2 separate regions of the Homo sapiens genome follow, and region 2 is linked to region 1. Evidence: fine-mapped expression QTL. A gene starts in region 1. The other region holds a variant in brackets. All regions are shown on one strand. Distances are from middle to middle.

The links. PIP is the estimated chance that this variant, and not a neighbour inherited with it, causes the effect.
Region 2: its variant is fine-mapped to the expression of DPP9-AS1 in monocytes after R848 (Quach 2016, PIP 0.95).

The regions. Positions count from the first base shown.
Region 1 is chr19:4,671,716-4,683,014 of GRCh38, forward strand. DPP9-AS1 (DPP9 antisense RNA 1) reads left to right here and starts at 7,567. Exons shown (of 3, transcript NR_164163.1): 1 at 7,567-7,824; 2 at 11,086-11,299. It overlaps DPP9 (dipeptidyl peptidase 9), which reads right to left. Exons shown (of 22, transcript NM_139159.5): 20 at 10,981-11,123; 21 at 8,120-8,231; 22 at 3,512-4,941. The coding sequence ends at 4,849. RefSeq lists enhancers at 4,256-5,216, 7,874-8,375.
Region 2 is chr19:5,495,584-5,511,465 of GRCh38, forward strand. No RefSeq gene overlaps it. Among named protein-coding and RNA genes, the nearest start is that of ZNRF4, 48 kb to the left of the region's middle. RefSeq lists enhancers at 3,340-4,172, 12,491-12,660 and a cis regulatory region at 12,576. The variant A/G (reference allele first, on the strand shown) is at 8,818.

The DNA.
Region 1 (11,299 bases):
GGCAGCCTGTTCTAAATTGGGATACCTGCTTGCGTTAGGAAATTTATTGGCCGGGCGTGATACTTCATGCCTGTAATTCCAACCCTTCGGGAGGCCAAGGTGGGTGGATTGCTTGACCTCAGGAGTTCTAGACCATTCTGGGCAACATAGTGAGACCCCATTCCTATATATATATTCATATATTCACATATGTGAATATATATATTCATATATTCACATATGTGAATATATATATTCATATATTCACATATGTGAATATATATATTCATATATTCACATATGTGAATATATATATTCATATATTCACATATGTGAATATATATTCATATATTCACATATGTGAATATATATTCATATATTCATATATACTTATATATTCATATATTCATATATACTTATATATTCATATATATGAATATATATTCATATATTCATATATATGAATATATATTCATATATTCATATATACTTATATATATATTCATATATTCATATATACTTATATATATTCATATATTCATATATATGAATATATATTCATATATATGAATATATATATTAATATATTCATATATATATACTTATATTCATATATTCATATATATACTTATATTCATATATTCATATATATACTTATATTCATATATTCATATATATACTTATATATATTCATATATTCATATATATACTTATATATATTCATATATTCACATATATACTTATATATATTCATATATTCATATATATACTTATATATATATATATTTAAAGATATTTTAAGATTATTTTTTAAAGATAGCCGGACATGGTGGTGGGCGCCTGTAATCCCAGCTACCTGGGAGGCTGGGGCAGGAGAATCTTTTGAACCCAGGAGGCATAGGTTACGGTGAGCTGAGATCATGCCACTGCACTCCAGCCTGGGTCCCAGAGCAAGACTCCGTCTTAATAAATAAAGAAATAAACAAACAAATCTCTTCCTCCATGCAGCTGTCTGTTCTGGACCCATGAGACACTGTCTCCATAAACTGGACAAGCACAGAGCAGCCCTGTTCCTTAGGTGAGTGACACAGCACGGTTCCACTGATGGAGTCCCCATTACCTTACCACGGTGTTCAACTTTCAGCCTGTCACCATGAAGGATTCGATGCATGGCCGAGCTCTGCGGCTAACAAGGAATTTCAGTTGTGAGCTGTTGGGAGTCTGCTACGGAACCCAGGCAGGTTGTGCGTATGCGTGTGCATGCGTGTGTGTGTTCTTTCCAGAAAGGTTTCGGCCCCAAGTTTCACCCACCCACCACAAATCATCACACTAAAAGGATTAAAAGAAAAAACAAGGCTGGCCCCAGTACTTTGGGAGGCAGATCACTTTGAGCTCAGGAGTTTAAAAACTGCCTGGGCAAGATGGCAAGACACCGTCCCTATAAAAAATACAAAAACATTAGCTGGGCATGATGGCTTGTGCCTGTAGTCCCACTTACTTGGGAGGCTGAGGCCAGAGGATGACTTGAGCCATGGAAGCAGAGGTTGCAGTGAGCTGAGATTACACCACTGCACTCCAGCCTGGGTGACAGAGCGAAACCCTGTGTCCAAAAAAAAAAAAAAAAAAAGGAAAGAAAGAAAAAGAAAAGAAAACAAGGCTGGACACAGTGGCTCTTGTAATCTCAACACTTTGGGAGGCCAAGGTGGGAGGATCACTTGAGCCCAGGAGGTCGAGGTTGCAGTAAGCTGTGATTATACCACTGCATTCCTGCCTGGGTGACAGAGGAGCAAACAACAAATTATTCCACGGATCCCACTAATCATGATATGAAATCTGTCAGTCCTAAAGGACAAGATTCGATCACACAAATATTAGATTATTTATTTATTTTTTTTTTTAAATTTGAGACAAGGTCTTGCTCTGTCGCCCAGGCTGAAATGCAGTGGTAGTTTCAGCTCCCTACAGCCTTAACCTCCTGGGCTCAAATGATCCTCCCACTCAGCCTCCCAAGTAGCTGGGATTACAAGGCATGCAACACTCACCCAGCTATTATTATTATTATTTTTTTGTAGTGATGGGGTTTATGCCATGTTGCTGTGGCTAGTCTCAAACTCCTGTGCTCAAATGATTCACCCACCTTGGCCTCCCAAAGTGCTGGCATTATAGGTGTGAGCCACTGTGCCTGGCCTCCTTTTTGTGTGTGTGTGTGTCTGTGTGAGACAGGGTCTCACTCTGTTGCCCAGGCTGGAGAAACCTCCTCAGCTCACTGCAACCTCCTCCTCCTCCAGGGCTCAAGTGATCCTCCCACTGCAGCCTCCTGAGTAGCTGGGACTACAGGCGTGCACCATTGCGCTGGGCTAATTCTTCAATTTTTAGTCGAGATGGGGTTTCACCATATCGCCCAGGCTGGTCTCAAACTCCTGGGTTCAAGTGATCTGCTGGCCTCAGCCTCCCAAAGTATTGCGATTACAGGCGTGAGCCACCACACATGGCCTTTTTTTTTTTGAGGCTGATCTCAAATGCCTGGGCTCAAGCCAACCTCTCGCCTTGGCCTCCTGATTAGCTGCGATTACAGGTGGAGGCCACTGTGCCTGAGTCCCCTAAATATCATTTTGTACTGGAATTTTTTTCTTTTTTATACTTCCTTTTTGATGTTGTTGTTGTTGTTTTGGAGACTAGGGTCTTACTCTGTCACCCAGGCTGGAGTGCAGTGGCATGATCACAGCTCACTGCAGCCTCGACCTCCCGAGACTAAAGTGATCCTCCAGCCTCAACCTCCTGAGTAGCTGGGACTGCAGGCATGCGCCACTACACCCAGCTAATTTTTGTTTTTGTAGAGCCAGGGTTTCACACCATGTTGCCCAGGCTGGTCTCCAACTCCTGGACTGATGCAATCCACCCATCTTGGCATCCAAAAGTGCTGGGATTACAGGTGTGAGCCACCACGCCCGGCCTCGTATGTTTTTTTAAGCCCCCCCCCCCCTTTTTTTTTTTTTAAAAAAAGTGGAAATTTCCAAAGGATGGAGCAAGTGGATAAGCAGGGCAGTCCATCCCTGCTGTTAGAAATGGAGCCCACATGCCCCGCACGTTGCAAACAGGGTCTGCTGGGTGTCTTGGCTGCTGGGACGATGTGAGGAGGGCCTTGGCCTGTCGTGGTCCTCAGGGTGCAGAGTCTCAGGTAGAAAAGGAGGTGTTGGCTGGGGGAGGATCCAGCATGGAGGATGCTGTAATTTGGGTTGTGCTGAGGCTCTGGGGAGCCCGGGGGGCCAGTCCAGGCCACACACGACAGCCAGAGCTGAGTCCCTGGAGACCGGTAGACCTTCCTAGACCAGCGAGGACAGGACTACCCTCATCAGGTGGCTGGGGCCATCCTCTGTGGGTCAGTCTGATCAGGGCATGGTGCCCAGGCAGCCCCAGCACCCCAGGAGTCCCCACAGATGGCAGTGCCCTTCTGCCATGTCTTGTCTGTTGCCCCCCGGAAGCCCCTCCCACTCAGGAGCCCCAGGACTTAGAAGGAACCTCAGGCAGGTGACATGTTTCCAACTGGAATCGTTTAATGTGTCTACTTCTTCCACGCATAATTATAAAAGAATAAGAATCGACAAAAATATTTTCTTTCCATAATATGTAGAGGTGGTTTGTTTCTTTTTTTTTTTTTTCTTTTCTTTTTACTTTTTTTTTTGCCCGCCCCTGGCAGAGCTCTTGGCGGGGAGGGAAGGGGAGAGGGAAATATAACCCTGAGGTGGGGATGGTTCAGCTCCCAACCCCGGAACCCCTGGTGTGTACGGGTCAGGCAGACACATGTGGCTGGGCGGCTGGGCTGGGGAGGGGACAGCCGCCACTGACCAGCAGAGCGTGGAAGTTCGGTGCGTTTCAGTGCCTGCCTGAAAGCTTGGGGACAGGAGGGCTGTCCACAGGTGGTGCCCCCCGCGGGCCCTGGCCGCTTCTCCTGTGGGGCCCGCATGACCCTCTGCTCGGGCTTGGGAAGAAATGGAGCCTACCAGGTGCTGGGTTGCAACCCCGCTGCCCGGTGTGGACCCCAAGTCTAGATTTAGGCACCCCTTGCTTTCTGTCTTTTATTTTTTATTTATTTTGAGACAGAGTTTCGCTCTTGTTGCCCAGGCTGGAGTGCAATGGTGCGATCTTGGCTCACCGCAACCTCCACCTCCCGGGTTCAAGCGATTCTCCTGCCTCAGCCTCCCGAGTAGCTGGGATTATAGGCACGCGCCACCACACCCGGCTAATTTTTTGTATTTTTAGTAGAGACGGGGTTTCCCCATGTTGGCCAGGCTGGTCTTGAACTCCCAACCTCAGGTGATCCGCCCGCCTCAGCCTCCCAAAGTGCTGGGATTACAGACGTGAGCCACCGCGCCCGGCCTGTCTTTTAAATAATTATGAAAAATATCCCCCCAAACAAAACACAAACATCAAGTTGGGGAGGCTGGCCGGGGGGGACAGGCAATTGCATGCTTGGGTGCTGGGGACGGTGGCTGGCCGGGCCAGGGGACTGAGAGGTCACAGGGAGCCCCAGGCGGAAGGCAGCCCGCTCCTCTGAGTCTCTTCTGGCCTCTCCAGTGCCCATCAGCGTGTGACCTCCTCCTCCCAGAAGGCGGGGAGAGGAGGGGCTGGCCCGAGACCACCATCTCTCTGTCTCGGCAACCAAGAAGCAGCGGACATAAAACCCAAGAGCGTTTAAAAAAGGATAAAAGGCGTCGGGGCGGTGAAGGCAGCGGCTCCTCGGGGCTGGCCAGCGCTGGGCGGGACAAAGTGCCTCACTGGGGCCCGCGGGCCACTCAGTCCCTCCCGCCTGGTTCCCCGCGGAGGCTGCAGCCACTTGTGCTGTGATGTGGCGGCTCCCGGTGGGCAGGCTCAGAGGTATTCCTGTAGAAAGTGCAGCAACGTGACTTCATAGTGCTCGCCCGACTCGGGGCAGCGAATACTGTGTCTCTCGTTGGGGTAGATCTGCGGGGAGACAGGAGGCAGGGCTGGGGGGCGTGGCCGGACCACCCCCGTGTCCTAGGCTCCTCCCTTATTCTGGCTCAGGGCATCCGGGAAGGCGCAGGTGCTCTGAGGCCCAGTGATCTGGGTTTGAATCCCACCTCGGCTGTTGACTTGCAGTGTAACTCTGGGCCTCTCTAAAAAATGGGGTGAATCCGGACCTCACAGTCTTTGGGAGGATTTGGTAAGACAAAGTTTACAAAACGCCTTGCGGTGTGCACGCGCTTGCACAGAGGAAAGATTTAGGAAGAAACCGTTTGCCTCTTTCCCCCAAACCGGCTGACGGGCGACCAACTCATCTCTGTGGAGGTGGCTGAGGCTTCAAGCCTCAGGGACATCTGGTGCCCTGGTCTCGAGCCATTTCCACTTTACCAAAAGGCATGTGACTAGCTCTGGGCCTTAGGACAGCTGCCTGTGAGGATTTGTGAAGCATTTTCTGGGTCCTCTTAGCGCCCAAGGGGGATCAAGCCAAGAGGCAGGCAGTAACATGGAACTCCCCAGGCTCCTGAGACCTGGACCAGCCAACGCCAGGCCTGGGGGTGGATCCACACGGGGATGCAGGTCCTGCCTCTGGCCACGAAGGAGGGCTCTCGAGGCACTGACGGACAACCCCTATAGCTCCCCACTGCCCCCTAGGGGTTGGTAGGACCAAGGCATGAAAATAACCCTACGTTCTCCACAAAGAACCCCGGGGCTGGCCGGCAGCAGGGGCAGGTGGCCCATCTACGCCACCTCCTGCCAGTGAGATGGGTTTCTGAATCATCCCCTCCTCTCCAGGCTCCTGGTCCCCACTGTTGCCCATCACCCTGGGAATGCACCAAGCCACCCACTGGTTTCCCCTCCTCTACTCTTGCCTTCTTTAATCCATCCCTGGATGAATCACGAGTTTGATGACACCGTCCCCAGCCTAGACCTCTGCAAGGACTTGCCAGTCTGACATCAAGACCAGCTTCCAGGTCCTGCTGCCCCAGGCACTTCAAGGGCCCACTCCTTCCCCAGCCCGGGCAGTGGCACTCCCTGGGGCAGACTCTGCTGCCCTTGACACCAGCCATATGCACATGTTGTGCCCATGCCTTTATGCCACTCTGGGTCCCAGCTGCCTGGTTACTTTTTCCTCTTGGCTAAGAGGGCAGATAGAGGGTCTGTCTGGCTCCCCAATGAGCTTCCAGACCAAGCCCAAGGCCCGGCATGTGACAAATGTGATTTGTGTATAAAGAGGGCCTGGGGCCGCCAGCTGCCTGGCCCAGATGTTTTGGGGTCTTTGAAACAGAAGGAGAGGTGCACTCTATCTGTCCCACACAATGCCATGTTCCCACCCCACAGCCTATCTCATCTCACGTTCTACTTCCTGTGGGGAGGCAGTGAGACAGGACCCTGGGCCCACCCTGTGTGCTGAATGCTTTTCTTTTTTCTTTCTTTTCTTTTTTTTTTTTCTTTTGAGACGGAGTCTCCCTCTGCCGCCCAGGCTGGAGTGCAGTGGCACAATCTCGGTTCACTGGAACCTCCGCCTCCCAGGTTCAAGCGATTCTCCTGCCTCAGCCTCCCGAGTAGCTGGGACTACAGGCGTGTGCCACCACACTCGGCTAATTTTTGTATTTTTAGTAGAGACGGAGCTTTGCCATGTTAGCCAGGCTGGTCTCAAACTCCTGGCCTCAAGTGATCCACCCGCCTCAGCCTCCCAAAGTGCTGGGGTTACAGGCGTGAGCCACCACGCCCGGCCTGAATGCTTTTCTGAAGACCTTGTTTGGCCCCAGCAGCCTTCAAGGAGGCCGAGTTATCATGACCGTTTCAAAGACGGAGAAACGAGGTGCAAGGGTGAATGCTGTCCCAGCTACCTGGCCCCTGGGAAGGCAGTGGGCTCGGGTCTCAGGCTGGGAAGAGACATCTGAAGTTCCATTCCAGCCCTGCCTGATATCACTCCCTGGGCTGCTTGGGATGTGGGGTGTCGGTGGGGGGCACCGCCAAGAGATCAGCTCATCACCGCACAAGGTGGCTCTGCCTCCCTCCTGCTCTGCGGCCCCATTTCCCTGCTCTGTTGAAAGGCAACAGGACGCTCCCCACAGGACAGAGCATGCCGAGGCGCCCAGGAAGCAGAAATTGTCTGCAGTCCACAGGTAATAAAACCTGGCCCTCTTGCCTCCAAGATACCTCCTGAATCTCCCGCCGGTACAACTATGGACCACGTCCCACTGTCCCCCACAGGCCATCCACAAAGCAGCCAGAGAAATGTGGGTCAAATGGCAAGCCGCCCAACTCTATGCTCTGCTCACAAGCCCGAGTCACCTCCCACCACCCTCAGTTGAAAATCCAGCCGAAGCCCCGCCCCCGCTGAGGCCCCACCCCTCTATAGCAGAAGCTCCACCCTGCTTACTGAGGGCCCCCCCTCCTCTACAGCAGAAGCCCCACCCTCCTCACCGCTGAGGCGCTGCTCCCACACCGAGCCCCACCCTCTCCACTACCGAGGCCCTTCCCCACACCGAGGCCAACCATTTACTGCGGAAGCCCCACCCACCGTAACACTGAAGCCCCGTCCCTCTGCAGAAGTCCCACCCTCCTCGCCATTGAGGCCCCGCCCATAACCATGCCCACCCCTTAGCGCAGAAGCCCCGCCCACCTAGACTGAGCCCCACGTTGCTGCCAAGGCTCCACCCACTCCCCCACTCTCCTCCCGCTCGGTCCCCCAAGCCTGGCTGGCTCCACTCACTCTAGCACCCTTCACTGCTGCCTCCTCAGGGAATGCTTGGCCCCAGCGCCTTAGGAAGGAGCCTGCTAGGGCCTTCAGCACTCAGCGGTTTCTTCTACGCAATTTCTCAGTTTCAAATAAAGCCCGTCTGCGGGGCAATTTCGGTAAGGGTTCCTCCCTCCATTAGGCCCGGAGCAGGGGTGGGTGTGGCAGCCCCCGATCCCGTGCTTCCAGCACCGAAGGCAGGCGGAACCCTGAGCTGTCAAGACAGGACTGATACATCAATGGCCCTGGGAGCTGGGAGGGCGGGGACACAGGGCTGTGGGGTGGGGGGCTGGGAGCCCCAGATCCCCCAGGGAGCCCCTGGTCACAGTGGGAAGCCACCCCGCCTCGTCCCACCCCCCACTCCCAGGGATCTGTCGGCTCGCGGAGGGGCCGAAGCCCCCAACAGCCACCCACCTGGAGCTGGTAAGGTTTCCCTGCTCGGATCAGTTGGGAGACGAGGAAGTTTGTGTGGAAAAAGTGCACGTTTTCGTCCAGGAAGCCGTGGAGGATAAGCAAGCGGTTGGGCCTGGAAAACAGATGGGGAAGGGTCTGAGGCCAGGGATTGTCCGTGGGGTAGGAGGGGAGCAGATCACAAGGTCAGGAGTTTGAGACCAGCCTGGCCAACATGGTGAAACCCTGTCTCTACTAAAAATATATTTAAAAAAAATTAGCCAGGCATGGTGGCAGGTGCCTGAAATCGCAGCTACTTGGGAGGCTGAGGCAGGAGAACTGCTTGAGCCTCAGAGGCAGAGGTTGCAGTGCGCTGAGATCGCGCCACTCACTCCAGCCTGGGCGACAGATGGAGACAGCATCTCAAAAAAAAAAAAAAAAAAAAGATCAGCTGAGTGTAGTGGTGCGCCTGTAAGTCCAGCTACTGTGCAGGCTGAGGCGGGAGGATCACTTGAGCCCAGGAGGTGGAGGCTACAGTGAGCTATGATCATACCACTGCACTCCAGCCTGGGTGACAGAGCAAGACCCCATCTCTAAATTAGAAAAACAAAAACAAAAACCCAGGCCGGGTGCAGTGCCTCATGCCTGTAATCCCAGTACTTTGGGAGGCCAAGCTGGGTGGATTGAGTCCAGTTGTTTGAGACCAGCCTGGGCAACATGGCAAAACCTCATCTCTACAAAAATATTTAAAAGTTAGCCAGGCGTGGTGGTGCACACCTGTGGTCCCAGCTGAGCCTGAGGCAGGAGGATCACCTAAACCCTGGGAGGGTGCAGTGAGCTATGATTAAAAAAAAAAAAAAAAAATGCTGAGCATGGTGGCTTACACCTGTAATCCCAGCACTTTGGGAGGCCAAGGCAGGTGGATCACTTGAGGCCAGGAGTTCAAGACCAGCCTGGGCAACATGGTGAAACCCCATCTCTATTAAAGATACAAAAATTAGCTGGGTGTGGTAGTGCATGCCTGTAATTCCAGCTACTGAGGAGGCTGAGGCACGAGAATTGCTTTAACCTGGGAGGTGGAGGTTGCAGTGAGCTGAGATTAAGCCACTGCACTCCAGCCGGGACCACAGAGTGAGACTCTCTCAACAAAACAAAACAAAAACCCACCTAGGTCTGCTGCTGTCTGTGGTCTGGAGTGTGGCATGGGCTACTGGTGAGGCCAACACGCAGCCTCACCAGAATCGGCTGCCCTAGCCCTTCCTGTCCGATACGGGAGCCAGTGGCCACACGTCGCCGTTGAAATTCCAGTTTACATTCATCCAAATTAACGGAACTTATAAACCCATTGAGACAGAGCACAGATCGGTGGCTGCCCCGGGACAGGGAGTGACTGCTAAGGAATGGGAACAGGGTTTGACGCTGGAGTGCTGGAAAGGTTCTGGAACCACTGCAAATGCACCGAGGGCTGCTTTAAGGTGACTGTTAGGTTCTGTGAATTTCACCACAATAAATTATTATTTTTTGAGACAGAGTCTCGCTCTGTTGCCCAGGCTGGAGTGCAGTGGTGCGATCTCAGCTCACTGCGACCTCACCCTTCCAGGTTCAAGCAATTCTCCTGCCTCGGCCTCCTTGAGTAGCCGGGATTACAGGTGTGTGTCACCACACCTGGCTAATTTTTATATTTTTAGTAGACATGGGGTTTCACCGTGTTGGCTAGGCTGGTCTTGAACTCCTGAAGCCACCGTTCCTGGCCTATTATTATTATTATTGTTTTGAGACAGTTTCTCTCTGTTGCCCAGGCTAGAGTGCAGTGGCACGATGTTCGCTCACTACCAACTCCACCTCCTGGGTTCAAGCGATTCTCCTGCCTCAGCCTTCCAAGTAGCTGGCATTACAGGCATGCACCACCATGCCCAGCTTATTTTTTGTATTTTTTTGTAGAGACGGGGTTTCACCATGTTGGCCAGGCTGGTCTCGAACTCCTACCTTAAGCAATCCTCCTGCCTTGGCCTCCCAAAGTGCCCAGGCAGACTTTTTTTTTTTTTTTTTTTTTTGAATTGGAGTCTGGCTCTGTCGCCCAGACTGTAGTGCAGTGGCGCACGATCTCGGCTCACTGCAAGCTCCGCCTCCCGGGTTCACGCCATTCTCCTGCCTCAGCCTCCCATATAGCTGGGACTACAGGCACCCGCCACCACACCCGGCTAATTTTTTGTATTTTTAGTAGAGACGGGGTTTCATCTTGTTAGCCAGGATGGTCTCAATCTCCTGACCTCACGATCCGCCCGCCTCAGCCTCCCAGAGTGCTGGGATTACAGGAGTGAGCCACCGCGCCCGGCCCATGCCCAGGCAGATTTTTAACCCCCTAGGTGACTGCATGGGATTCCGGGGAACATTTTCTGGAGACGTGCCAGAAAATGGGAACACTGTTTTCTCTCCATCAGAGAATAAGACCCATGTCAAAAGCATAAAATGGGACATCTGAGCTGGTCCCTGGCCCTGTGGACATCTATGTCCTGAAGCACAAGACAGAGGCTGTGATGGGGCCTCCAGCAGGATGCAGGGGAGTGGGGGAGGCTTGCCTGTGAAAAGCAGTGACTCGAATTCCCTCATCTTTCCCAGGGCAGGGCTGTGAGCCTCCTTCCCCAGACAAGCATCCCTGGGTGCCCCTTCCTGCAAGGTGCAGTGAGGAGGGAGGGTGGGCTGGAGGGGACTGTGAGGCACATGCAGGCAGACGCCACCACAGGAGCACAGCGGGGAGGCTCCACATGGCCTGAGGCTCCCTGGGCAGGGCCAGCTGGGGCAGGAGGGCACCCTCATAGAGACAGCTGGTGCCGGGGTGCAGGAGAAGCCCCGGGGAGGAGCGCAGGGCAGGGCAGTGGCCTTACTCATTGGGCAGCTTCTCCACGTGCAGGGCCACGGAACCCGCCTCATAGCCGTGCTGGTTGTTCTCAGGGACGTCCATGTAGCGCTCAGTGTACCCTGTGTCGTAGGCCATCCAGACGGTGACCGGGGCACCCGCGATGGCCACCTGAGGGACACAGCAGACAGATGGGGGCAGAGAGAGAGAGAGAAACAGGCGTCGGGTCCTACAGCCAGCATCAGCCGCTGTCCCGGGGCCGCCCTGGAGCCCGTGAGGAGCGCTCATGCACATGGGGCCGGCAAGGAAGGGGCCCTCAGACCGCGTGGCCCCCGTGGACGGTGCGT
Region 2 (15,882 bases), 830 kb after region 1:
GCACGGTGGCTCACACCTGTAATCCCAGCACTTTGGGAGGTGGAGGCAGGCGGATCACTTGAGGTCAGGAGTTTGAGACTAGCCTGGCCAACATGGCGAAACCCCATCTCTACTGAAAATATAAAAATTAGTAGGGTGTGCTGGCACACACCTGTAATCCCAGCTACTCAGGAGGCTGAGTAGAATTGCTTGAACATGGGAGGTGGAGGTTGCAGTGAGCCAAGGTTGCGCCATTGCACTCCACCCTGGGTGACAGAGCGAGACTCTGTCTCCAATAAATAAATAAATAAAATAAAATAAGCAAACCCTTGCTGTTGTGGAAGAAGATGGAGCCAGGATCAAACAGGCTGAAAAATAGGGTGATAGAGCTGTCTGGGAGGTGCACAGGGCAAGAGGGATCATAGAAGGCTTCCTGGAGGAGGCGGCTCTGCAAAGACAGCGGAAGGAAGAGTTAGAAGAAGGAGCCAAGAGAAGAGATGTGGGGGAATGTTTTAAGCAGAGGTGGCAGCCTGGAGGTGAAACTGTGTGTGACTCCCTCAGGCAATCGGGGGGTACAGGAGAGAGGCTGGGAGACCAGGGAGGAGATCTGGGGTGGGAGTGGGGGACTAGCATTGGGGCAGAACTGGGAGGGGACAGATGGGAGGGAGGGCCTGGAGGTAGAGCAGGCAGGATGTGGGGACAGACAGGCTGTGATGGAGAGGGGAGAAGCTGGACAGAAGCCAGTGTCCAGGTCTCCAGTTCAGGGATGGGGGCCCAGTGGGACCACCGCTGAGATGGGGACCTAAGAGAAAGAGCCAGCTGAGGGGAGAGGCCGAGGCCAGGGTGGCCACTGAGGGTGGAAGTCCTGAAGGATGTTCAGGGGGGAACCCCAGGGTGATGGCTGGGCTCGCAGGAGGGACACTGAGCTACAGTCAGAGCTCTAGCATCCATGCAGCACTGCCGTTCCCTCTGCCCAGAACACCCTTCCCCATGCTCCACCTGACTACACTGTCCTCTCCCTCCAGGTCTCAACCTGGAAGGCACCTCCACCTTGGAGCCCCCCTGGGCTGTACATCCCCCATGACAGCCCCACTGTCACTGCCCGGTCACCGCGAGCTCTGTAGTGGTGGGGCTGCCTCCATCTCGTCTCTGCTGTGTCCCTAGCACACAGTCAGCACCCTAGGCCTGTCTGTTACCAGAGCAAACACATCTGTCATTTTCACCATCATGTACCCAGCACCCATCACGGCCCTTTGGTAACTCTCGCCAGTCATCTCATCTCACATGGCTCTTTGAGGGGCCACCACACAGAGGGAATCGCCAGAGGCCGGCCTTTCACATGCAAGTGAGAACCGGGCTGTTTCCAACTGCCCAGGTCCCAGAAGAAATAAAAAAAAGGAAGAAATGGGCCAGGCGTGGTGGCTCACACTTGTAATCCCAGCACTTTGGGAGGCCGAGGCAGGAGGATCACCTAAGGTCAAGAGTTCGAGACCAGCCTGGCCAACATGGTGAAACCTTGTCTCTACTAAAAATACAAAAATTAGCCGGACATGGTGGCGGGCACCTGTAATCCCAACTACTTGGGAGACTGAGGCAGGAGAATAGCTTGAATCCAGGAGGCAGAGGTTGCAGTGAGCCAAGATCGTACCACAGCACTCCAGCCTGGGTAACAGAGTGAGACTCCGCCTCAAAAAAAAAAAAAACAAAAAAACCCACAAAATCACGAAAGTAGGTGATGAAGTCAGGAAACTCAGAAGTGTTATTTAAGCTTAGGAAATCAGGAGGGCTTCCTGGAGGAGATGATATTGGAGGTGAGAGAATCAAAAGTTGAGATGGAGCTGGCCAGGTGGATACCTGGAGCAAGAGCACTCCAGGCAGAAGGCACAGCCCGTGCAAAGGCCCTGGGGCAGGACTGCGCCTGGGGTGTTGGAGGAACAGCGAAGAGGCCTGTGTGGCTGGAGTGGAGTGAGCAATGGGAGAGAAGGAGGAGGGAGGTCAGGGCAGGGACAGGCGTGCAGGGCCTGTGGGCCTTGGAGAGAACTTGGGCTTTGACCCCCAAGGGAGATGGTTGCCATGGAGGGTCTCCATAAACCTCTTCCTCCTGAGTCTCTGCGACTGTAGCTCCCACCACCTCATGTGGAGAGAACCTCAAAAGGAGACCTTTGATGCTCTCCGGGAAGATGAGATGATCCTCACCCCCGACGTAGCCCTGGCCATGGCTCCTCCTTCTTGAGCAAGTCCCAGCCTGGTCCCAGGTGGCTCAACTCACTGCTGCCCAGAACCCCAGCATGGCTGCCTCATCCTCAGCAGAATCAAGTCCCCACATCCCCACACTTGTCAGGCTTCTGCCCCACACATGAAGAGCTCCAACCAAAACCATTTAGGTCTGCCCCTCCCACCCCTATCGTTGTCTCCACCATCTCCCACCTGCCAGGGTTGGGGTGGGGGCTCCGGGAGAGAAGCCACGTGCCCTTGGTTTCCCCATCCAAGGCATGGCCACATCCGTCCCTGAAGGAGTTAAGGGTACAGGAACCGTAGTGGCCATCACTGTATCTGAAATTCCAGCATTAGGGCTCCATCCCTGCAGACCTTGTAGAAATCACTAGTGGAGTTGCTTATTCACTCAACAAACACCGACCCAGTGCCCACTTTCAGATAAGTCTAAACCAGGTGCAGCCCCAGCCCTGGGCTGACTGCAGCCGAGTCCCGGACCTGACCTGATCCTAACCATGGACTGAACCCAAATCCTGGCTGAGCTTGGACTGAATCTCAGACCCTGGGTTGAGCCAGGGTCAACCAGGGTCAGCCCCAACCGCAGACTGAGCTCCAGACTTGGACTAACCCTGCCTGAGCCCTGCTGACCCTGGCCTGAGCCCTAATATCGACAGAGCCCCAACCCCAGGCTGAGCCCCAATCCCAGCCCGAGCCCTAATATCGACAGAGCCCCAACCCCAGGCTGAGCCCCAATCCCAGCCCGAGCCCTAATATCGACAGAGCCCCAACCCCAGGCTGAGCCCCAATCCCAGCCCGAGCCCTAATATCGACAGAGCCCCAACCCCAGGCTGAGCCCCAATCCCAGCCCGAGCCCTAATATCGACAGAGCCCCAACCCCAGGCTGAGCCCCAATCCCAGCCCGAGCCCTAATATCGACAGAGCCCCAACCCCAGGCTGAGCCCCAATCCCAGCCCGAGCCCTAATATCGACAGAGCCCCAACCCCAGGCTGAGACCCAATCCCAGCCCGAGCCCTAATATCGACAGAGCCCCAACCCCAGGCTGAGACCCAATCCCAGCCCGAGCCCTAATATCGACAGAGCCCCAACCCCAGGCTGAGCCCCAATCCCAGCCTGAGCCCTAATATCAACAGAGCCCCAACCCCAGGCTGAGCCCCAATCCCAGCCTGAGCCCTGACTCTCGGCTGAGACTGTAGACACTGCCTGACTCTGAGTGTCAGATTCTTTTACCGCCCCTGGAGGAGGCTGAATCCCTCCCAGCTCGGCTACCTCTAAATCCTAAAGCCCACCCGGTAGCCTCAGCTGCACTGACCCACGCTGGCTCAGCCAGATCCAGAAGGTGGGAGGGTCTTGCCCCCCTTGCTCCCCTCAGAGACCCCAGGACTGGAAGTTTCCCAGTGGCCCAGCAGTGAGAGTGAGCGGGTTAAGGCCCCGGCTACAGTGGGTGGGCCTCAAATGCTCTAGCCTGGGAGGCCCTGCCAGGCGCTCCATCTCCTGCCCAGCGGGGGCCGCATTAGCCGCTCAAAACCCATTCGGGGAAATTAGAGCAGAGGCCTCTGCGACAATCACGGGTCATTCTCGTCTCCTGTTCCCAGGCTCTCCCGCAGCGATGACAGCCCAGCAATGGGGCTGGGGGGTGGGGACACAGGGAGATTGGGGGATCCCAGCCGGCCGGCTCAGGCTGAAGCCTTCTCCAAGTCAGCCAGGGAAAGAAAACTGTAATCACTGCGGGCTTTAAAGACATCACTTCTGTGCTCCAGTGCTTTCCATAGCTTCCAGCTGACAAAGATGTCCAAATGGTTCAATCCAACAAGCAACAGTGAGGTCATGGCAGCACCAGGGGAGAAGCCCATTCTGCCAGCTCTCCATCTTTCTGCCCACAGTGTGTGCATTTTACGAATGTCCTCCAGCCTCGGCAGGTCAGGAGGCAAAGTAGGTCAGGTTTACATTTAATTCAGAAATGAGGTGGACTTCAGGAATGGTTTGATCCAGCATTTTCAAGTGGTCTTCAAGAATCAAGGTTCAGCAGTACGCGGTGCCTCATGCCTGTAATCCCAGCACTTTGGGAGGCCAAGGCAGGTAGATCACCTGAGGTCAAAAGTTCAAGACCAGCCTAGCCAACATGGCAAAACCCCATCTCTACTAAAAATACAAAAATTAGCTGGGTGTGAGGGTGCTTGCTTGTCATCCCAGCTACTCAGGAGGCTGAGGCAGGAGAATCACTTGAACCCGGGAGACGGAGGTTGCAATGAGCCGAGATCACACCACTACACTCCAGCCTGGGTGACAGAGCAAGACTTTGTCTCAAAAAAAAAAAATAAAAAAATTAATTAAATAAATAATAAAAATTAGCTGGGCATGGTGGCAGGTGTCTGTAATCCCAGTCACTTGGGAGGCTGAGGCAGGAGAATCACTTTAACCCAGGAGGCAGAGGTTGCAGTGAGCAGAGATCGCACCATTGCACTCAAGGTTCAGCAGGGCTTGGTGGCTCATACCTGTAATCCCAGCACTGTGGGAGGCCATGACAGGAGGATTCCTTGAGCCCAGGAGTTCAAGATCAGCCTGGGCAATAGAGTGAGACCTCGTCTCTATAAAAACAACTTTGTTTAATATTAGCTGAGCGTGGTGGCACACGCCTGTAGCCCCAGCTACTTGGGAGGCTGAGGTGGGAGGATTGCTTGAGGCCGGGAAGTGGAGGTTGCAGTGAGACAAGACTGCACCACTGCACACCAGCCTGGGCAACAGAGTGAGACCCAGTCTCAAAAATAAATAAGTAAGTAAAAATAAGAATCAAGGTTCATTCTATCCTGAGAGATCTACTCCCAGCCTCTTCCCCAACATTCTGCAAGTTTTCCACCTCCAGGTTTTCACTCAAACAAGAGCCCTCACCTGACTGGCTGTTCCATGCCCACAGGTAGCACAGCAGTGCAGTTCCTGAAAAGGGGGTCAGGAAGCTGGCTACTACCCAAGCCAGGAATTCTCTGCCCTTTTCCAGGGGTAAGTTTCCCCACCTAGAAAATGAGAGGATTGGAATCCAGGATTCTTAGAATGTCTTTCAGCTCTAAGTCTCGGTGAATCAGAAGCCCCCACAGTGGGTAGTTTTCGGGGATTAGTCCTCTGGTAGCCATTTTAGTCAACAGGCAATATCAGTGCGCATTTGCTATCAGCTGTGCTAGGGCCTCTGGACTGTGATAACCTCTAATCTTCACCTCCTGTGTGAAGTAGGTACTGCTCCATTTTACAGAATAAGAAACTGAGGCTCAGGCAGATCCAGCCTCCTGCTAAACATCACACAGCTGTTTGGTGGTAGAGCCAAAACGTAGCCCCCCATGCTACAGCACCTCTAGTCCTCCTGGCCAGGATTTCTGGGTCCAAATCTTCAATTCTGGCAATGAGAGGGAAGGTGGAAGGAGGCTTTTTTCTCCCATGAATGCATCTCCAGGTTTGTCATGAAGGCAGTGGACTCAGTTTACTTCCTGGAACTCCCCCTTCCCCTGCAGGGTCTCCCACATTGCTGACAAATGCACCTCCTTCTTTCACAGATGTGGAAACTAGGGCTCATAAAGGAAAAGTGAGTCTCCTAAAGTCTTACTGCCAGGCAATGCAATGGTGTCTTCATCAGTCTGGATGGACTGCTACAGTAACAAAGAACCTCTTGGAGCCAGCCTCCAAGATGGCCCCAATGAGCCTTTGCCTCCTGGTATTCATGACCTTGTGGGGTCTCCTCCTCCACTGAATCGGGGCTGACTCGTGAGGCATATAAAAGTGACAGTGAGTGACTTCTAAGGCTGAGCCTTATATAAAAGGCACTTCAACTTCCTCCTTGGATCAACCCCTCTAGGAATGAGCCAGCAGCCATGTTGGAAGAACACTCAAGCAGTGCTATGGAAAATTCTGCATACAAAAGTGAAGGACAGGCTGGGTGTAGTGGCTCACACCTGTAATCCTAGCACTTTAGGAGGCCAAGGCAGATGGATCACTTGAGGCCAGAAGTTCAAGACCAGCCTGGCCAACATGGTGAAACCCTGTCTCTACTAAAAATACAAAAATTAGCCAGCTGTGGTGGCAAGCACCTGTAATCCCAGGTACTCCAGAGGCTGAGGCAGGAGAATTGCTTGAACCTGGGAGGTGGAGGTTGCAGTGAGCCAAGATGGTGACACTGCACTCCAGCCTCGGTAACATATTGAGAAAGAGGAAAGAAAGAAAGAGAGAGAGAGAGAAAGAAAGAAAGTAAGAAAGGAAGAGAGAAAGAGGGAGAGAGAGAGAGAAAGAGGGAGAGAGCGAGAGAAAGGGAGAAAGAAAGAGAAAGAAAGAGAGAAAGAGGGAGAGGGAGAGAAAGGGAGAGAGAAAGGGAAGGAGAAAGAAAGAGAAAGAAAGAAAGAGAGAAAGGGAGAAAGAGAGAAAGGAACTCCTACCCACAGCCATGTGGATGAGCTTGGAAGCAGCTCTTCCAGCCCCAGTCAAGCCTTCAGATGATACAGCCCCAGTCAACATCTTGACTGCAACCTTGTAAGAACTTCGGAGTCAGAATTGCCCAGCTAAGCTGCTCCCAAATTCCTGTCCCATAAAACCATGAGAGGTAATAAATTATTATTTTAAGCCACTAATTTTTCAGGTAATTTATACAACCACAGTAACTGGAACAAGCTCCTAAATCTTAGTGGCTCTAAAACAACCAAGGTTTATTTGTCATCCACACTATATGCCCAATACAGGTTGGCAGGGGGCCTCTGTGTCTGCCTCACTCAGGCATTGAGACAGATGGAGGAAACATCAGTGGTCTCTAAGAGAGGGGAAAGAATATGAAGAATGGGATACTGGATTTTAAAGGCTTTTACTGAAGGGGATTAACATGACTTCTACTCACATTTTATTGGCCAAAGCAAGTCATGAAGCCACACCTCACTTCAAACGGCAGCTATTGGTGGGGTGCAGTGATTTACACCTTTAATCCCAGCACTTTGGGAGGCTGGGACAGGAGGATCACTGGAAGCCAGGGGTTTGAAACCATCCTGGGCAACATAGGGAGACTCCATCTTTACAAAAATAATTTTTAAAAATAGCTGGGCATGATGCATACCTGTAGTTCTAGATACTTGGGAAGCTGAGGTGGGAGGATCACCTGAACCCAGGAGGTTGAGGCTGCAGTGAGCCATAATCACACCACTACACCCCAGCCTGGGCAACAGAGTGAGACCCTGTCTCAAATTAATACAAAAAAAAAAAAAAAAAAAAAGACAGGTGTATGATTTTGCTGGGGCTACCAAAACAAAATACCACGAAGTGAGTGGCTCAAACAACAGAAATGTATTTCCTCATAGTTTTGGGGTTTTTGTTGTTTGTTTGAGATGAAGTCGTGCTCTGTTGCCCAGGCTGGAGTGCAGTGGCACAATCTCGGCTCACTGCAACCTCCACCTCCCGGGTTCAAGCGATTCTCCTGACTCAGCCTCCTGAGTAGCTGGGAATACAGGTGCCCACCACCACGCCCAGCTAATTTTTTGTTTTTGTATTTTTAGTAGAGATGGAGTTTCACCATACTGGCCAGGCTGGTCTTGAACTCCTGACCTCGTGATTCACCCACTCGGCTTCCCAAAGTGCTGGGATTACAGGCGTGAGCCACCATGCTTGGCCTATTTCCTCATAGTTCTATAGGCCAGAAATTCAAGACCTACATGTAAGCAGGGCCATGCTCCCTCCAAAGGCTCTAGGGAAGGATCCATTCCGTGTTTTTCTGCTGGCTTCTGCTAGTTCCTTGGCTTGAGGTGGCATAACTTTAATCTTCACATGGCGTCCTCCATGTGAATCTTAGAATTTCTGCCTTCAACTTCTCTTCCCTTCTGCCTATTACATAGCATTTCCCCAGCTCCAAGCTTCCCCATATCCCTCCAAAGTCCAGAAAATCAAATAAGTTATTCTTTATCTCAGGAACTTCCAAATTTCACCTTTTCCCTCCTCTTGTCTGTTATTTGCCATGTCTAATAGAGCAAGGTTGCAATGTCACCTTTCACCAGAAGAGGCTGCTCACACACACACACCGTCTATCTTCCAGCTAAACACCATCCCTGCCTTGGTTTGTAGTAGATGAAGCTTGAAATTGCTTATGATCACTAGGAAGTCAGGGACACCTCAGCATAGAAACTCCCACAGTCATGGGCTTAACAAGGCTGGGCCCATAACAGTTGTTGGTTGTAAACCTGGGAGGCAGGTGGTATTGACCCCATTTTATAAATGGGAAGTCTGAGAAGCCCAGCGTTGCAGACCCACAGTCTTTTGGCTTCCATATGTGACCTGGCCCTATATTCTTTACTCATCTTTTATCACCTACCTGATATCTAATCCCTCAAATCCTGTCCTGTCTGCCTTCAAAACCTATCCAGAATCTGGCCACTCCTCTCTCTTCCTCTGCCTTCACCCTGGTCTGACATCTCATCGTCACTTGCCTGGAACCACACAGTCCCCTCTTCCCTGGTGCCCAGCTCCCGACTTCACCCCCCACAGTCTATCCTCCTCTCAGCAGCCACCAGGGGCACCTGTGAGCACCTGAGTCAGATCCTGTCCCTCCTCTGCCCATAGCCCTCCAAGAAGCATTCCCAGAGGAGATAATAC[A/G]TGGTCTAAGAATTCAATTCCACCAAATTAGCTGGAAAAGAAAGGCAGAGATTTGCTCCTGCACACCAGCCTCTCCCCACCTTCAGGACTTTACCCACACAGCCTCCTCCTTTGTCCAGAGAACCCTTCCCTTCCTCCTCACCTGGCCTACTTTGCCCAGTAAATTGGGGCAGAGCTGGGTGGGTATTCTGCATGCCCTTTCCAGGCAAAGTTGTTCCAGTTCCTCATGTCCTGCAGGGTGAGACATTGAGCTCCTTTCTCTTTGCTTGCTCATCCCAGAATCTCAGTTTTCTCATCTGATAAATGAAAATCAAAGAGACAATCTCTTGGGTCTGGCTCAAAGAGTATTCTGAATGCAAGTTAGTATAACCATCATTATTATTTATGACCAGAAGCTCCATAGTAACATTTGTCAAGACTCTTTTAAGCCACCGGCCTCAGTTCCAATCCCACTTCCTCAGAGAAGCTCCCTTGATATGGACTAAATGTTTGTGTCCCCCCCATCCAAATTCATAAATTAAAACCCTAACACCCCTCCCCAACTATGGGATGGTAATTGAAGGAAGGCTCATGATGGGATTAGTGCCCTTACAAGAAGAGACACCAGAGAGTTTGCTCTGTTTCTGCCATATGAGAACACAGCAAGAAGGTGGCCATCTGCAAGTCAGGAAGAGAGCCCTCACCAGGAGCTAAATTGGCTGGCGCTTTGCTCTGGGACTTCCCTGCCTCCAGAACTGTGAGAAAATGATCTTTTGTTTAAGCCACGCAGCCTGTGGTACAGACAGTCCCTGATTTACAGTAGTTCAACATAATTTTTTTATTTTTTGAGGGTGACAAAAGCAATATACATTTAGTATGCTACTCTAAGTCAAGTAGCAGTGAGGTGGAGGCTGGGCATGGTGGCTCACGCCTATAATCCCAGCACTTTGGGAGGCCAAGGCGGGCAGATCATGAGGTCAGGAGTTCGAGACCAGCCTGGCCAACATGGTGAAACCCCGTCTCTACTAAAAATACAAAAATTAGCCAGGCATGGTGGCACGCACCTGTAATCTCAGCTGCTCCGGAGGCTGAGGCAGGAGAATTGCTTGAACCCAGGAGGTGGAGGTTGTAGTGAGTTGAGATCGTGCCATTGTACTCCCGCCTGGGTGACAAGAGCAAGACTCTGTCTCAAAAAAAAAAAAAGACAATGAAGTGGCTTCCAGGTAAACCCATTATAAGCTGAAAATATTGTAAATCTAAAACGTATTTTGACTTATGATATTTTCAACTTTTGATGGGTTTATTGGGTAATGACCCCATTGTAAGTTAAGGAGCATCTTTGTTTAGTGATGGCAGCTGGAGCAGACTTCACTATCCTCACAGCCCCACCCCAACCAATCCCCGTTTTATCCCCTTCATTAACTTCTTTTTTTTTTTTTTTTTTTTTTTGAGACACAGAGTCTCTGTCACTCAGGCTGGAGTGCAGTGACGCAATCTTGGCTCACTGCAACCTCCACCTTCCTGGTTCAGGTGATTCTCGTGCCTCAGCCTCCCAAGCATCTGGGACTACAGATGCATGCCACCACGCCCAGCTAAGTTTTGTATTTTTAATAGAGACGGGGTTTCACCATGTTGGCCACGCTGGTCTCAAACTCCTGACCTCAAGTGATCCACCCACCTCGGCCTCCCAAAGTGCTGGGATTACAGGTGTGAGCCACTGCACCCGGCCTCCTTCACTGACTTCTGAATCCACCTTTGGTTTACCTACCTGCTCAACTCTCTACCTTGACTAGAAGTTAAACCACATGAGGGCAGGTGTTTTGTCCATCTTATTGGTGGCTGGATCCCCAATACCTAGAATGGTGCTTGATATACAGTAAGTGCTCAATATCTACTGGATGAATAGGCCCAGGACTCGCACCAGAGTCTCTGCACTGTCACAGAGGGCCTTGTCCCCCTGGACTTTGGAATAAACAGGACACAGGGTTCAGAAGCGAAGATGGGGGAAGAGATCAGGGTTCTCCAAACTGCCTTTCATGAATTGCCCTAAGGCAGAGTTTCCTATCTTTGCCACTGTGGGCATTTGAGGCTGAATCATTCTCTGGGCTGCGACCATCCTGGGCACTGCAGGGTGCTGAGCAGCACCCCTGGCCTTCACCCACTCCATGCCAGGAGCACCCCCCAAGTCATGACAACCAAAAATGTCCGCAGACATTGCCAGATGCCCCCAGAGCATGCAAAATCATCCCTGGTCAAGGCCACTGCCCTAAAGAAATGACTTCTTGGCTGGACACAGTGGCTCACACTTGTAATACCAGCACTTTGGGAGGCTGACGTAGGAGGATCACTTGAGGTTAGGAGTTGGAGACCACCCTGGCCTCCAACTCTATATGGCAACATAGCAAGAAGCCATCTCTATAAAAGAAAGAAAGAAAGAAATGGCTCGGGCCAGGCATGGTGGCTCATGCCTGTAATCCCAGCACTTTGGGAGGCCGAGGCAAGTGGATCACCTGAGGTCAGGAGTTCGAGACCAGCCTGGCCAATATGGTGAAACCCCATCTCTACTAAAAACACAAAAATTAGCCAGGCGTGGTGGCGGGCGCCTGTAATCCCAGCTGCTCAGGAGGCTGAGGCACGAGAATTGCTTGAACCTGGGAAGCAGAGATTGCAGTGAGCGAGTCGAGATCACGCCACTGTACTCCAGCCTAGGTGACAGAGCAAGACTCCATCTCAAAAAAATAAATAAATAAAAGAAATGGCTTGTTGCCCACCTTTCTGCCTCCCCGCCTGCCAAATACATCCACAGCACTTGTGGGAAGATCCGTCTGAGACCATGGATTCCAGGCTGGGCTGATGCCGGCACGCAGGAGGCCTCGCGCAAGACGGCTGGTCCCAGCCAGACCCAGAAAAATTAGATTAACTCGGAGAAGCTCGCCAAGACGATCCGTCAGGCCGCCTGAAGGACAGCGTATTGATTTCCACGTTGCGAAAAAATTAAATGATATCCCTTTTTGTTATTTAAAACGCTGCTTAAGCAATTCCCTAATGGAACGGCCCGGCCCGGGTCCAGGAACTCCCTGGCCCGGCCGGCAGCGTCTCCGGATCGGGTGGAGGACGAGGGAATGCGGACACGGCCCTGTCTTCCCCTCCGGGTAATTGATGACCTCAGGAGAACAGCTCCATTTTGCCTGCATGCAACGTGCACAGTTCTGATTTATTAAAGACATAACAATTATGAAAATAGCTGATTTATAATCAACTCGCCCGGACCCTAATTGATTTCCAGGGTGAAATTTAGAAGGGGAGGTATTGACACCTTGAGGACAGGGCGAGCCACCGGCCTTGGGGATGGACTGTGATGGGTGGCTGGGGTGGAGGGGGGAGGACGGGACAGGGAGACAGCGGCCTGAATCTAGTTGGGTTCTTTGTTGCTTCATGAGATGGGCTTTCTGCCCAGCGTTGCTGGAGAGGGTCAAGCCGTAATGGTTGCCACCATTTCCCAGTGACAGAGGCGGTCCCTGGCTCCAGCAGAGGCAACTGTGCCACATTGCAGACAAATCAGGCTGGGCCCAGTGGCTCATGCCTGGAATCCCAGCACTTTGGAAGGCCAAGGCAGGAGGATTGCTTGAGGCCAGGGTTCGAGACCAGCCTGGGCAACACAGCAAGACTCCGGTCTCTATTAAAATAAATAAAGTAATAATTTTTTTTTTTGAGATGGAGTGTCGCTCTGTCGCCCAGGCTGAAGTGCAGTGGCGCCATCTCGGCTCACTGCAACCTCCGCCTCCCAGGTTCACGCCATTCCCCCACCTCAGCCTCCCGAGTAGCTGGGACTACAGGGGCCTGCCACCAAGCCTGGCTAATTTTTTTGTATTTTTAGTAGAGACGGGGTTCCACCGTGTTAGCCAGGATGGTCCCAATCTCCTGACCTTGTGATCCACCCGCCTCAGCCTCCCAAGGTGCTGGGATTACAGGCGTGAGCCACCGTGCCCGGCCAAGTAATAATTTAAAAAAAAAAAAACAAATCTTCCAGCACTCTGTTGGGAAATCTCAACATTGTCCTCATAGCAGCCAGGACAACCTGATACTGTTGATACAAATGAGTCTGCCCCACAATGTCCAGAACCTTCTATCTCTCCAGAGCCTCATGCTCCGGTTGCCAGATGTGGCCAATAAAAATACAGGTTGCCAGCCAGGCACGGTGGCTCATGCCTGTAATCCCAGCACTTTGGGAGGCTGAGGCAGGTGGATCACTTGAGGTCAGAGGTCAGGAGTTCAAGACCAGCCGGGCCAACATGGTGAAACCCTGCCTTTACTAAAAATACAAAAATTAGCCGGGCATGGTGGTGTGTGCTTGTAATCCCAGCTGCTCAGGAGGCTGAGGCAGGAGAATTGCTTAAACCCAGGAGGTGGAGGTTGCATTGAGCCAAGATCGCACCATTGCACACCAGCCTGGGCGACAGAGTGAGACTCCGTCTGAAAGAAAAAAAAAAAAATACAGAATGCCGGGTTCAATCTGAGTTTCAGCCAAACAACAAGTGAGTTTTTAGTATAAGTATAGCCCATGCAATATTTGGGGTATACTCAGACTTTTTTTTTTTTTTTCTTAAAAAAGTATTTTCTGTTTATTTGAAATTCAAGTTGAACTGGGTGTCCTGTATCTTACCTCACAATCCTTCTGTGACGGGCAGGACTCCAGCTCCCAACAGCCCGTAAGGGACGAGACTGACTCCCATTCACCTGATGGGAAAATTGAGGCAAGAGGGGTCGGGCACGGTGGCTCACGCCTGTAATCCCAGCTCTTAGGGAGGCTGAGGCAGGTGGATCACAAGGTCAGGAGATCAAGACCATCCTGGCTAACACAGTGAAAACACGTCTTTACTAAAAATACAAAAAAAAAAAAAAATTAGCCAGGCTTGGTGGCGGGCACCTGTAGTCCCAGCTACTCGGGAGGCTGAGGCAGGAAAATGGCGTGAACCTGGGAGGTAGAACTTGCAGTGAGCCAAGGTTGCGCCACTGCACTCCAGCCTGGGCAACAGAGCGAGACTCCATCTCAAAAAAAAAAAAAAAAGGAAAAAGAAAAAAAAAAAGAAACAGAAACAGGGCTTTGTGTCTCTGGACCTCGGTCTCCACACTGCACAATGGGTGTGATGGTGGCCCCTCCATCACGCGGTGCTCAGGCTGAGGAAATGATTTGTGGATACCCACCAGCCCATGAGCACTCGATTCTTGGGTCTCCCCAGTGCCAACAAAGAGAGAGACAGAGGCAAAGACAGAGAGACAAAGAGAGAGACAAGAGAGAGGGATCTGGGCTGGTTCCGGAAGGGCGAGCCCCCTTTGCGGATGGGGTGGCCCAGGAGGGTGGGAATTCAGTTTGCAAATCAGAAGGTTCCAGACTTTTCTGTAAGGCAGGGAGACAGCTAAAGAGGAGCCTGCAGGCCGGGCGCGGTGGCTCATGCCTGTAATCCCGACACATTGAGATTGGGATCTGACCAAGGTGGGTGGATCATTTGAAGTCAGGAGTTTGAGACTAACCCGACCAACATGGTGAAAACCCATCTCTACTAAAAATGCAAAAAATTAGCCAGGCGTGGTGGTGCATGCCTGTAATCCCAGCTATTCAGGAGGCTGAAGCAGGAGAATCTCTTGAGCCTGGGAGGTGGAGGTTGCAGTGAGCTGACATCATGCCACTGCACTCCAGCCTGGGCGACAGAGCGAGACTCCGTCTCAAAAATAAATAAATAAATAAATAAATAAATAAATAAATAAAGGGGAGCCTGTAGGATGCAGAGACCCAGAGCACCTACCCACAGCTGCCAACGCCCAGTCCCCAAGATGGCCCTGCTGAGCAGTTTTAAGTATTGTTAAAGATAAAATAATTTTTCCTTCTCTGAGCCATCTGATTGACGTGGTAATGGGCCCCGCAGACAGGGAGAAGGTCAGGTTGCAATGTAATCAGTTTTTTCTAGAGTGACGTATAATCATGATAGCAGTGCACCTGGAAAAGGGGGAGGGACCTGCGACAGTCCCCAGACCCTCTGAGCTCTCCGTTGCAGGACACGACAGGGCCACAAGGACGGTGGGACCCAGGGAGGCTTCCTGGAGGAGGCGTAGCTGCAGCTGGGATTGGAAGGACATGGCATCACAAATGCAAAGTTGTGGAGGTTGGAACTGTCTCTTTGTGCCTCTTCCTGATCCCACTAGATCTTACTCTCCAGGGGAGAATCCAATTCCCACCTTTCCCAGCGTCTAGAGACATCCGCATCCCTTGGCTCAGGGCCCCCTCCTCCACCTTCACAGCCAGCAGTGGCTGGTCTAGTCCTTCTTTGGTTTTTTTGTTTGTTTGTTTGTTTGAGACAGAGTCTCACCCTGTAAGGCAGGAAGACAGCTAAAGAGGAGCCTGCAGGCCGGGCGCGGTGGCTCATGCCTGTAATCCCGACACTTTGAGATTGGGATCCGGCCGAGGTGGGTGGATCATTTGAAGTCAGGAGTTTGAGACCAGCCCGACTAACATGGTGAAACCCCGTCTCTACTAAAAATGCAAAAAATTAGCCGGACGTGGTGGTACATGTCTGTAATCCCAGCTATTCAGGAGGCTGAAGCAGGAGAATCTCTTGAACCTGAGAGGTGGAGGTGGAGCCCAGGCTGGAGTGCAGTGGCGCCATCTCTGCTAACTGCAACCTCTGCCTCCCGGGTTCAAGTGATTCTCCTGCCTCAGCCTCCCGAGTAGCTGAGATTACAGGCGCCCGTCACCACACCTGGCTAATTTTTGTATTTTTAGTAGAGATGGGGTTTCACCATGTTGGCCAGGCTGGCCTTGAACTCCTGACCTCAAGTGATCCTCCCGCCTCGGCCTCCCAAAATGCTGGGATTACAGGCGTGAGCTACCGCGCCCGGCCAGGCCTGGTCCTTCCTGTGTTGCTATCTGATTCTCTCTCTTCTGCCTCTGTCTTCCACTTTAAAAGACCCTTGCGATGATTTGGGCCCACCAGGTACTCCAGAATAATATCTTTCTCTCTCATCACTAGCTGCCTGGCAACCTTCATTCCACCTGCAACCCTAATTCTCCTTTGCCATTGAATCACATTC